Linked DNA regions of Homo sapiens. The protein of the gene in region 2 interacts with the protein of the main gene of each other region in a pairwise test. Each region holds a gene or a part of one and is shown on either strand. Other genes may lie near its edges. The genes, in order: PRKAA1, UBXN11 and SH2D4A.

What was found.
Region 1: the proteins of UBXN11 (region 2) and PRKAA1 interact in binary tests that used the Homo sapiens proteins (3 or more experiments, as listed by UniProt).
Region 3: the proteins of UBXN11 (region 2) and SH2D4A interact in binary tests that used the Homo sapiens proteins (3 or more experiments, as listed by UniProt).

The regions. Positions count from the first base shown.
Region 1 is NC_000005.10:40,774,224-40,777,874, forward strand, and holds part of PRKAA1 (5'-AMP-activated protein kinase catalytic subunit alpha-1), read right to left. Parts: intron 3,364-3,651; coding exon 3,222-3,363; intron 1,281-3,221; coding exon 1,187-1,280; intron 750-1,186; coding exon of another isoform or gene 705-749; intron 1-704. UniProt on the Homo sapiens protein: Catalytic subunit of AMP-activated protein kinase (AMPK), an energy sensor protein kinase that plays a key role in regulating cellular energy metabolism.
Region 2 is NC_000001.11:26,285,996-26,289,646, forward strand, and holds part of UBXN11 (UBX domain-containing protein 11), read right to left. Parts: intron 43-3,651; coding exon 1-42. UniProt on the Homo sapiens protein: May be involved in the reorganization of actin cytoskeleton mediated by RND1, RND2 and RND3. Promotes RHOA activation mediated by GNA12 and GNA13.
Region 3 is NC_000008.11:19,316,616-19,320,266, reverse strand, and holds part of SH2D4A (SH2 domain-containing protein 4A), read right to left. Parts: intron 924-3,651; 5' UTR 720-923; coding exon 539-719; intron 1-538. UniProt on the Homo sapiens protein: Inhibits estrogen-induced cell proliferation by competing with PLCG for binding to ESR1, blocking the effect of estrogen on PLCG and repressing estrogen-induced proliferation. May play a role in T-cell development and function.

The DNA.
Region 1 (3,651 bases), on a different chromosome or scaffold from region 2:
GCCATGCATCAAAGACAAAAATGAATAAAATGAATGCAGAGAGCACAGAAGGTACAGAACAAGACGGAACAGAGGAAGACTTTTTTTAAAATGCCATCCTCAGACTAGGTTATTATATCTGTGAGGCAAATAACAGCAGACTAAAAAAATGAAAATTTCAGAAAATAAGAAACTTTTGAAATAGAAAATACGGGTGCTGAAATTTTAATATTCAACTGGTAAAACTGAAGAAATACCCACAAGGTAAAACCAAGAAATAAACAACAACAGAAAAGATAAGAAAAATATATATCAATTGTGCCTGTTTCCCATTTCTCCAGGCAGAATTTTTTTTTTTTTTTTTTTTTTGGTAAGGAGAAGCAGGAGTAAAGGGGAGTACCTGAAATAGAAATGAATCATGTTAAGAAATAGTAAAATCAAAATTAACTTGGTTAATAAGTTTGATTTTGATAAAAGTAAATAGACATGCTATATAGAACAAATGAATGAGTAATGTAAATAACTTAAAATTGAGAGAAAAGCTCTCTTTTCAGGGCTAGCTACAGCTCTCCCACAAAGGGGCTTTTGCATACCACATAACCTGGGTATGAGAAAAAGTATGGGCAGAGGGCAGTGTTGAGTTTTTGTATCTGTAACTTAAGGTAGTGTTCAAAATGTCCTACAAAGTTCCTTCCAGCTGTAAATTCTTTATATCTAATTCCTACCTCCTTCGTGGAGCCTGTTTTTACTACTCCAGGTACATCAGATTTCTGAAACCAAAAAATGAATGCAATTTAAATGTGGCTAGAATTGACTAGCAAGGCCTAGATCTTTAAGTAATAATAATATATTTTGTAACGATTAATTACATTAAGATACATATTCAAAGTATTTGTATACCCTGGAAGCATAAGTCTGAGGATTATGAGTTCTGGGGGCTCAAGCCAATTCCGTCATTAATAAATCACGTTACTGTGAGCAATCATATAAGCCGCGAGGCTCAGTATCCACATCTGTATAAACAGGCTAAGGAGATAATCTTTAAGATCCTTTCTAGTTCTACATAGTTTATGATTCTAAACAAATATATGACTAAGGGAACTGGTTATTAAATAGACCTCTTAAAATTGGTTGCTGACATTTTGATGCTAGTAAAGGATAAAGGGGAGTTACAAAATACATACAGAATTAAAGCAGAACAGCTTACCCTTCCATTCTTACAGATATAATCAAATAGCTCTCCTCCTGAGACATATTCCATCACCATGAAAATATCAGATGGTGTACTGATGACCTGGTACCTGGTGAGAGAAAACATTGTCTACAAATATTAAAACACATATATTCATTCATTCAATAAATATTTACTAAGCACCTATAGTATACCAGGTACTAGGCTAGGAGCTAGAAAAACTGCAGGAAACAAAAATTCTCTGCTCTCATGGAGTTCATGTTCCAGGAACCAGGAAACAGACACTAAATAAATAAGCAATATCTCAGGTGGTGGAACATGCTATGAAGAAAAATAAAGCAAATGAAGGGGAATCTTTGTATACAGAGTGCTAAAGGAAAGCCTCTAATAAAGTAACATTTGAGCTGAGCCTAAAAGAAGAATGGGAACAAATTATGTAATTATCTAGGAGGAAAGCGAAACTGGGAGAGGGAATAGCAACTGCAAAGGTCCCCAAGTAGAAGCCTGCTTGGCATGTTCGAGGAATATTAGAGAGAAATAGGATGTAGAGTCAAAGGTGTTAACTGCAGGCCAGAAGACACAGAATTTTACAAGCCATGATAAGGCTTTGGCTTTTACTCCAAGGAAGATGAAAAGCTATCGTACGTTTTAAGCAGTCATGTGATCTGGCATATTAAAAGTAAAACTATGGCAGCAATGTGAAGAATTAACTGTCAACAGTAAAGGTAGCCACAGGAGGTTACTTCAGGATTTCATGAGACAGATGGTGGCTGAGACCAGGTTGACAGCAATAAAGGAACTGAGAAGCAATCAAATCCTAGCTTGATTGTGAAGGAAGAAATGAAATGCATGGTAGAAAGTGAAAGAAACAGGGAAGTTAAAAATGGTTCCTAAGTTTTAGCCCTGGGTCATTGGCTGTTAGCCAAGATGGTGAAAACTGTGGGAAGAGCAGGTTTGGGAGAGTAATAAAGAGTTCATTTTGGGCCGGGTTGAGTTTTAAATGTCTTGCGAACATCCAAATGGAAATGTAAAGTCAGCAGTGAGCAAATAAGTCTGGTGTAAGAAGAGATCTTAAAGCAAGAGATGTACATTTAGGGGTGGTCAGCATATGGATGGTATTTAAAACCTAGCACTCAACAAATGAGAAGAGGTAAGAGTGAAACAAGTTTGAGTCAGCCAGTTCAGGAGAAAAACCTAAGCATCTTTAAGTTATTGCCTGCATAACAAAGCAGAAGCTGAGCAGGAAATAGTTATTTGTAGACTCTATAACTGGCAACTGTAAAACAACAGTAAGATTACTGCCCTTTTGAAACCTTGGATTCCTGAAATTTTGTTATCTATATGTTCAGGTATAAGCAGGATGGGGAAAAACCCTTTCTACTACCGCATTCTCACTAGTGAGGCTAACTGACATCATGTGGGCATTTGGAGGTCAAGAGTTTTTACTAGCAGATCACTGTTGGTTTTACAGCAATGGGGCACCAAACATTACCAGAAGAGCATCTTTCCAGGAGACAGGAAAGAATGAGAAGATAACAGCTGATAAGCACAAGGGCAAAACATGAACACAGGCTTAAATGACCATCAATGGGGTTAGAAAAATACATGAATGGGAAGAAACTTTTATTTTTTTTTGGGACAGAGTTTCGCTTTTGTTGCCCAAGCTGGAGTGCAATGGCACGATCTCAGCTCACTGCAACCTCCGCCTCCCAGGTTCAAGCCATTCTCCTGCCTTAGCCTCCCGAGTAGCTGGTATTACAGGCGCCCACCACCATGCCCAGCTAATTTTTGTATTTTTACTGGAGACAGGGTTTCACCATGTTGGCCAGGCTGGTCTCGAACTCCTGACCTCAGGTGATCCGCCTGCCTCAGCCTCCCAAAGTACTGGAATTACAGGTGTGAGCCACCGCACACAGCCTAGGAAGAAACTTTTCAAAACCCTTAGGAAACAAAAAGAAGTGTCAGTCATTTTTCTCACTTGTCACATTAAGTAGGTTAACAAAAAAGATGAAAAGATGACTGGACTATATTTAATATAAACAGAGCTTACAGTTTAATTATATGAGGATGCCTGAAAAGCTTGAGGTTCTGAATTTCTCTGCGGATTTTTCCTACCACATCAAGGCTCCGAATCTTCTGTCGATTGAGTATCTTCACAGCTACTTTATGCCCAGTCAATTCATGTTTGCCAACTGTAAAAGAAGTAATTTAATAAATTAGTACTAAGTATGATTAATAATATATTTACACATATTCTGGCCCGGTGCAGTGGCTCATGCCTGTAATCCCAGCACTTTGGGAGGCCGAGGCGAGTAGATCACTTGAGGTCAGGAGTTCGAAACCAATCTGGCCAACATGGCAAAACCCCATCTCTACTAAAAAATACAAAAATTAATGGCCGGGAGCGGTGGCTCATGCCTGTAATCCCAGCACTTTGGGAGGCCGAGGCGGGCAGATCACCTGAGATCAGGAGTTCGAGA
Region 2 (3,651 bases):
GCAGCCTGTCAAAGTCCACCTCAGGGGGCGCCAATGAGTCCCCTGGCAAAGAGGACAGACACCTGTGAGCCGCCTTTTGGCTGTCATGTCCCTAGCAGCCCTAGCCTCTGTGGCTCCCTCCCAAGCTGGGCAGTGGTCTTAATGTCTCCTTAACTGACTGCCTGGGGAAAAGGACAACGCTAGATAATAACAGCAGCTGTCTTTTATTGAGCACTTATTTTGTGCTAGGGGTTTACTATCCATATTCCATTCCCACTTCTTATCAAGCCTATCTATAAAGGCTATAATCACCTCCATTTTTTCAGATGAGGAAACTGAGGGTTAGAGAAAGTTACATGGCTTGTGAGAAACACAGTAGTAAGCAGCAGAAGCAGGATCTGATCCCAGATCTGTGTCAGGCACTGGGTTGGCAGCTGAAAAGTACAGGGCAGAGCTCCCAGCTCTGGATCGAGGCCTTCTGGGTTCAAATCCCAGTTCCTCCCTTCTATCTGTGTGACCTTAGGTCATTTAATGCTTGTGCTGCAGCATTCTCTTCTAGAATGGATGACAGTAGTATCTGCCTCCTAGGATGGCTGTAAGGCTCCAAGAAGTAACCATGTTAAGAGCCAGCTTGGAACACGCACCCTGTCCATGTTTGCTACTGTGCCCAACTCCACCTTGCACACATGGTCCTTACGCCAACCCTGAGGCTTAAGGCAGGGGTAATTATTTTTATTTATTTGAGATGGAGTTTCACTCTTGTTGTCCAGGCTGGAGTGCAATGGTACAATCTTGGATCACCGCAACCTTGCCTCCTGGGTTCAAGCGATTCTCCTATCTCAGCCTCCTGAGTAGCTGGGATTACAGGCATGAGCCACCACACCCGGCTAATTTTTGTATTTTTAGTAGAGATGGGGTTTCATCATATTGGTCAGGCTGGTCTCGAACTCCTGACCTCAGGTGATCCGCCCGCCTTGGCATCCCAAAGTGCTGGGATTACAGGTGTGAGCCACCACGCCAGGCTGAGGCAGGGGTTATTTAGTTCCATTTTACACATGAGGAAACAGGCCCACAGAGATGAAAAATGACTCGTCCCAAGCCACTTGGTGAGAGGAGGAACTGGGAAGGGAGCCGGGGCTGACTCTCAAGTCTGTTTCCCCCACCCATCTGCACCATCAGGAGAGGGAGGTCAGAAGAGGGACAGATGGCTCTCAGGGAGGATGTAGGGACAGCTGCTGGCCAGAACAGATATGGGACAGACCTTAGGTTGTGCAACTATTTCTGGGTCACAGACCCCTTTGAGAAGCTGACAAAGCTCTGGCCTCCTCTTCTGAAACACGTGTGGCGCATACAGCTGTGTTCTGGCTTCAGGGGAGAATACGGAGCGGTGGGGACAGCCGTGACAGACAACAGAGCAGAAAGGTGGAGGGCAGGTAGATGCTGGCTGGGTACAGACCAGGGGCCTGTTCTGTCATCTTTGATGGGACCTGGCCCCCAAGTAAGTCATCTGTTTGGGTGTGCCCTACAACACACCAATAACTTTTGGGGCCTCAGAGAGGCTGTTTTTCAACAGGACAAGCAGGCTGCGGCAGGATGTGGGTCAGGGCTCTGGGGACCTAATTCCTTTCCTCTCAGTGGTGCAGTGGCTGTACCAGGGAGGTGCAGATGTGTTTCCTGTTGCTTTTGCAGCAGGTGAAATGGTAGGCCCCAGCTGGCCTTCTCCTCTCCCCTATATTTCCTACCATTGAAGGGGCTATACCTGCCCCCAGCCCCTCCGGGGGCTCCCCACATAGTCCCTGAGATTCCCAGGAAAAACTCGCCTAACAGAATGATACCAAGACACTTTTCTTTTAACAACTACCTTAAGGACAAATAGGCAAACCTAAAAACAATAGCAGAATAGATCATCTCATACAATGCCTGCCTCAACCCTTTTTTTTTTTTTTCCGAGAAAGGGTCTCCCTCTGTCACCCAAGCTGGAGTATAGCGGCACAGTCATGATACTGCAACCGTGACCTCCCGGGTTCAACTTATCCTCCCACCTCAGCCTCCCAAGTAGCTTGGACCACAGGCAGGCATCACCACACCCTGCTAATTAATTTAAAAAAAAATTGTAGAGATGGGGTCTCGCTGTGTTACCAGGGCTCTGTCTTCTTTATAGATGGGGAAAGTGAGGCCCAGAAAGGTCAGATGACATGGCCTGATCAGACCAGACAGAGCCAGGAAGAGCACCAAATACACCAACTCCTAATTCAATGCTCCTGCCGCCTCCCAGGGCCGGGGGTTTTTCAGGCTGATGAACATGGGTGGTTGACATGGGATGGGGTGAGACCAGGGAGGATGCCAAGAAACGACGAAGGGGAAGAGAGAAGCTTGCCAAGAAAATGGCCCTGGCTTAAAGAAGTAAAAGCAGGTGGCCCAGGCAGATGCTGGATATGATAGAGTGGAGATGAGACCAGGGGCCAGGAAGAAGGAACCACAGCTCTGGGCAAACCAGCACTGAGAGAATGAGGTGGGAAGAGCTACCACAGCAGGGCCTTGTGAAGCCAGTGAGCCCCCACCACCCCACCAGGGTTCAACTGAGGCCTGACCCGTGGATGGAGAGAGGTGCAGCTGGGGAGTCACACAGCAGGAGTAAGGTCAGAGGGCAAGTCCTAGGTCTGCCCTGAGCTAGCAGCAGAACTCAAATGGAAAGGCACTTCCTCTTTGAGCCACAGCCATCCTTTCTGTGCAATGGGGAGATGGTAAGAACCCTGTACTGCCTGCAAGATCCAGCTGGTGAACCTGTCTGTAAATGACAGCCCTGTGCCAAGCGCCAGGAGGCAGGCATCACCATTTCTGTTTTACAGATAAGGAAATTGGGCCTTATGAGCTGTCACGCCCCAGATCATGCAGCTTGCAGGGCCCAAGTGACTCAGCCTCAGTGCTCAGTGATCACATAGGCTGCCTCTCAATATTGGTTCTTGAGAGGCTGCTTACTGGGGTCCCTTTTCCAGGGAGAGTGGCAATGCTGGGAGATCACCTCTGAGGCCTCATCCAACTTTGAGAGCCCACGAGTGTATTAAAATGAGAAGGGAGCTCAAGTCCAAGCTCTTTGTCCCAACTCCCAAGACCCTTACTTAGCACCCAGCCAACCCTCAACATGCCCCTCGCCTTGCGCTCTGGTGGGCACTGGAGGGCACTTCCGAGCTCTGTAACCCTGGGCCTCTATGGGCCTCAGCTTCCTCTTCTGTACAATGAGGACGATAAAAGTTTCCACACTTCACAGGGCTGCTGTGAGGCTTGGAGGAAGCGTTTGGCAGATGGTGGCTGTTGTTGTCCCTAGCACCGCCTACTCATCGCTGGGCTCAAGCTGTGCCCACTCACCCCTACCTCCTCCAAGAAGCCTTGCTAGGAGCCACCCCCAACCTGCCTTGAGGCTGCATGCCTGGAGCCCTTGCACCTACTCCCTTGGCCCTCGTCACAGGCCGCTGCTTTCTGCTTGCTTGTTTGCCTTCCAGCCATGCTGGGCACCCCTTGAGCTCAGGAGCATTGAGCCCTGGGCCTGGCCCAGAGTGGCTGGGCCACTAAAAGCAGGGTTGGATCCTGCTTTCCAGAAATGTCTGAGCACCCGTGCTCTGCTAGGCCCTGCCCATCATGGCGATGCCCACGCCCAGGGTCCTGCCATCCTCA
Region 3 (3,651 bases), on a different chromosome or scaffold from region 2:
GATAACGAGGAAAAGTTTACATCTGAGAAACTCATTCACACTAAAAAAAGATAGTATTATGATTTTTTTCCTTATAGCAATTCCTTACATTTTAACAGGAGGTGTTCCCTAAAAAGATACCTCAAAGAAAAATCTCTGAGGTCTAAGAAATGCAAACACAATTGCTATAAATATACTGACACAAGAACTTTGTGTTCTAGTAGTAGCATATTAGGAACCAGTAACAATAAAGGAGATAGAAACCTTTCTTAATACCCCTCAAATCAAACCTCATAGGTGACTTTTTAATACAGCTTCAGGTTAGTCTGGTTTCAAGTAAAAGATTTCCTCATAGCTATGCAACTCCATGGTGAATGCTGTGTGTGTGTGTGTAGACTTCAGGTGGACATACTGCACTATTAGATTCTCAATAACATTTAGGATTCATCTGCCAAACTGGAACTTGCACCTGCTTTGCTTGTGACTAGTGTGAAATTGTCAAAGCAAGCCAGGAGCTGTTCTACCAACACATCCACAGAAGAAACGTGGATAAGTTTACCTTTCTTTGGTCTGGGTTTCACTGGCAGGGACTCCTTTCTTTCCATAGCTGCTTCTCTTTCTTTCCATCGTCGGATCTGTTCCTCTCTCATCTTGAAGAACAGGATCTGTTTCTGTTCTTCGCTGAGCTCTGCCAGTAGATCAGGATCTATGTACATCTCCGACAGTATCTGTTTCAGCATCTTTGCACTTCTGAAGTCTTTTATACTTGTGGCAAAAGTTCCTGAAACTGGCCTCCAGGTGTCCCTCCACCTGTGCTGGCACTTGGGCGTTTCCACGAAACTTCCCAAACAGCTCACAATCCTGGCTGACTGGGACAATAATTCAGCAAACTGGCTACTCAGACCTGGCACCAAATGTCCTGTCCAAAATGCTGTTCACTGAACCTGCAGAGAGAAAGAGCCCACATTCAGGCAGCGTGTTAAAATGTGTGGACACTGGCTAGGACGGGTTTAAAAAAAAAAGCTAGGAGGAAACACAGTATCACTTTTCAGTTCAGAGAGAAAAGAGAAGAAGAAAATCTGAGGCACACTTTGTTAAGAGTTTGTATAACCTCTATCCTGTAATTTCTAAAGATACTCTGTCAAAAAAAAAAAGAAAACAAACCCTAACTTTATACAGGTCAATCTCAGGCAAACAAAAAAAGTTCACAGAGGTTTGTCCAGCTCCCAACTAAGCAAACACATTATTACCCCAGAGCCTAACAAACCACCAACTGTGTGGCTGAAAAAAGAAAGAAAAAAAAAAGTCACAGGAAGAAATTAAAAGGCTCTCTGCAAAGTACCTATTTCAAAAGAAAATACCACTTTTGATATGTCACAGAGTAACTCATCCCAAACCAAACCAAAATAGAGCCATGCTCAAGGAAGAAAAAGGAAGAAATAAAAACTAGACCACCATGCATTTTCTGCAATTTCCCTAAAAAGTAGCATTAAATAAACAAAATTATGTACTTTCCTCTTCACAAAAGGATAATGTAATTTCCAGATAACCTACTAGAGCCATGAAAATCAGGGCAGGTGCAAGAGAGAACATCCATCTACATTCTGGAAGGTCACCGAGTTTTAGGTGTGCTTTTTCCAGATAACCTAGTTTAATAAAATCTAAATGGACAGACCAGATAAACTAGGGGGATGAAGAGGTCATTAGGTTCATAACAAAGGATCCTTCATTTATATGACTTTACCGCATGGCTCCTTGAAAGAGAAACCATAAAGCGAGAGTGCACAGTGGCCTCCTAGAAGTTCTCCTGTGGTTGGAAATCCTACTGAGGTTTCATTCTACTTTCCACATTTCTATTTTAAAATATTGGCTTAAAAATATTACCACACTGTCATACTTTCTCTCTCTATTTTTAAACAATTTCTAAGTCCCATAAACCATCATACTTTTGTAATCAGCAGGAAACTATGTAAATATATCTATTCTGGAAAACAAAAGACTTTGGATTCGATGTAATAAGATATAAGAAAAAAAACTTACTACAACTTTTCAGAATCACATGTGTCCTAAGAAATTGACCAATAGGCCAGGCGGGGTGGCTCACGCCTGTAATCCCAGCACTTTGGGAGGCCAAAGAGGGGGGATCACGAGGTCAGGAGTTCGAGACCAGTCTGACCAGTATGACCAACATCTCTACTAAAAAAACAAAAAATACAGAAATTAGCTGGGCATGGTGGTGGGTGCCTGTAATCCCAGCTACTCAAGAGGCTGAGACAGGAGATCGCTTGAACCTAGGACGCAGAGGTTGCAGTGAGCCGAGATCGCGCCACTACACTCCAGCCTGGGCAACAGAGGGAGACTCTGTCTCAAAAATAAAAAAAGAAAAAAAAAAGAAATTGACCAATAATTTGTTATTTATAATAACACCTCAATAATCTTACCACCTTGCCATGTGCTCTCAAATACGTTGTTTCTCCATACTATGTTCAAACAGTCTTAAACTTCAGACAAGTCACTTAGCTATATTATGACCATCGTAGTGTTGTTGGTTTCTCTTCGTTCACCTTGTCATTGATACAGTTAGATTTGTAATGCCCCTCTCACCATCTGGGGGCCTCCTTCAGCTTCCCGTCTTCCTCCTCTTCCGTGCAAAGTAGTTCCTTGATTTACACCTGTCTTTTGAGACAAGCACGCTCAACAGCTAGGCTACCACAGAGTGGTGTGCATACTCAGCTCTTAGATTCGCTGACTGTTCATTGTGAAGCCAGGCCCTTGATGAAACTACACCTATCCCTACTGACTGCAACCTATCATCTCGGCAGCATTCAACTACCAGAATCCAAATGGAACCAAACATTAAGAGAAAAATTTTAAAGGACTAAAAGTAATATCACGCCCTTCCCAGATCCACTTGCCAACTTTGTATTTTGCATTGAGATACCCTTAAAGGCTTGAACAGCCAAAAAAAAAAAAAAAAAAAAAAATGGATGTCTTGTCAAGATTTCTTGACTTTTGACTTTTTGTTTCTAGCAGCTTCTCAAAGGGTGGAGCCAATGAAATCCACAAGCTCCAAGATAAAGTGGTAAGAAAGGAGACAGAATGACTCCTTGACATTCCAGTAAATGTCCTTAAGTTCAATGGTTGGTTTTCGCAGAAATCACACACGGCAGAAGATGAACAGTTCAGCTGGGGTTGAGACTTCTGCTGTGTTCCCCATTTTGAATGCAGCGAATCCTATTCAAGGCATGGGTAGATCCTAGAATCTAAAACCCTTAAAGTGTCAAAGTCATATTCCTCCAGTCTCCCCCGCCCTGCATATTCCTGATAACACAGCTAACACTTCTTGTACCAGGCACCATCTTAATTAAGCACTCTACATGTGTTAACTCACTTAATCTTCACAATAACCCTTGGAGTCCAGCCCATCACTATGCCCATCTCACAGATTAGGAAGATAGAGCACAGGTCAGCAGCTGGTAAGCGGCAGAGCCGGGCAGTCCAGCTCTAACTCAGCTTCACTGTAATACACAACACAGAGGCCTTTTTGTGAGTTTATTTGTGTGCCCAGAATCAGAACAGCAGGATGTGGTGCCATGTATGAAATTTCAGAATGGAAGCCAGCAAATTCCTGCAGCAACAGAAACGCTGAACTGATGGTGCTTGACACAGGGC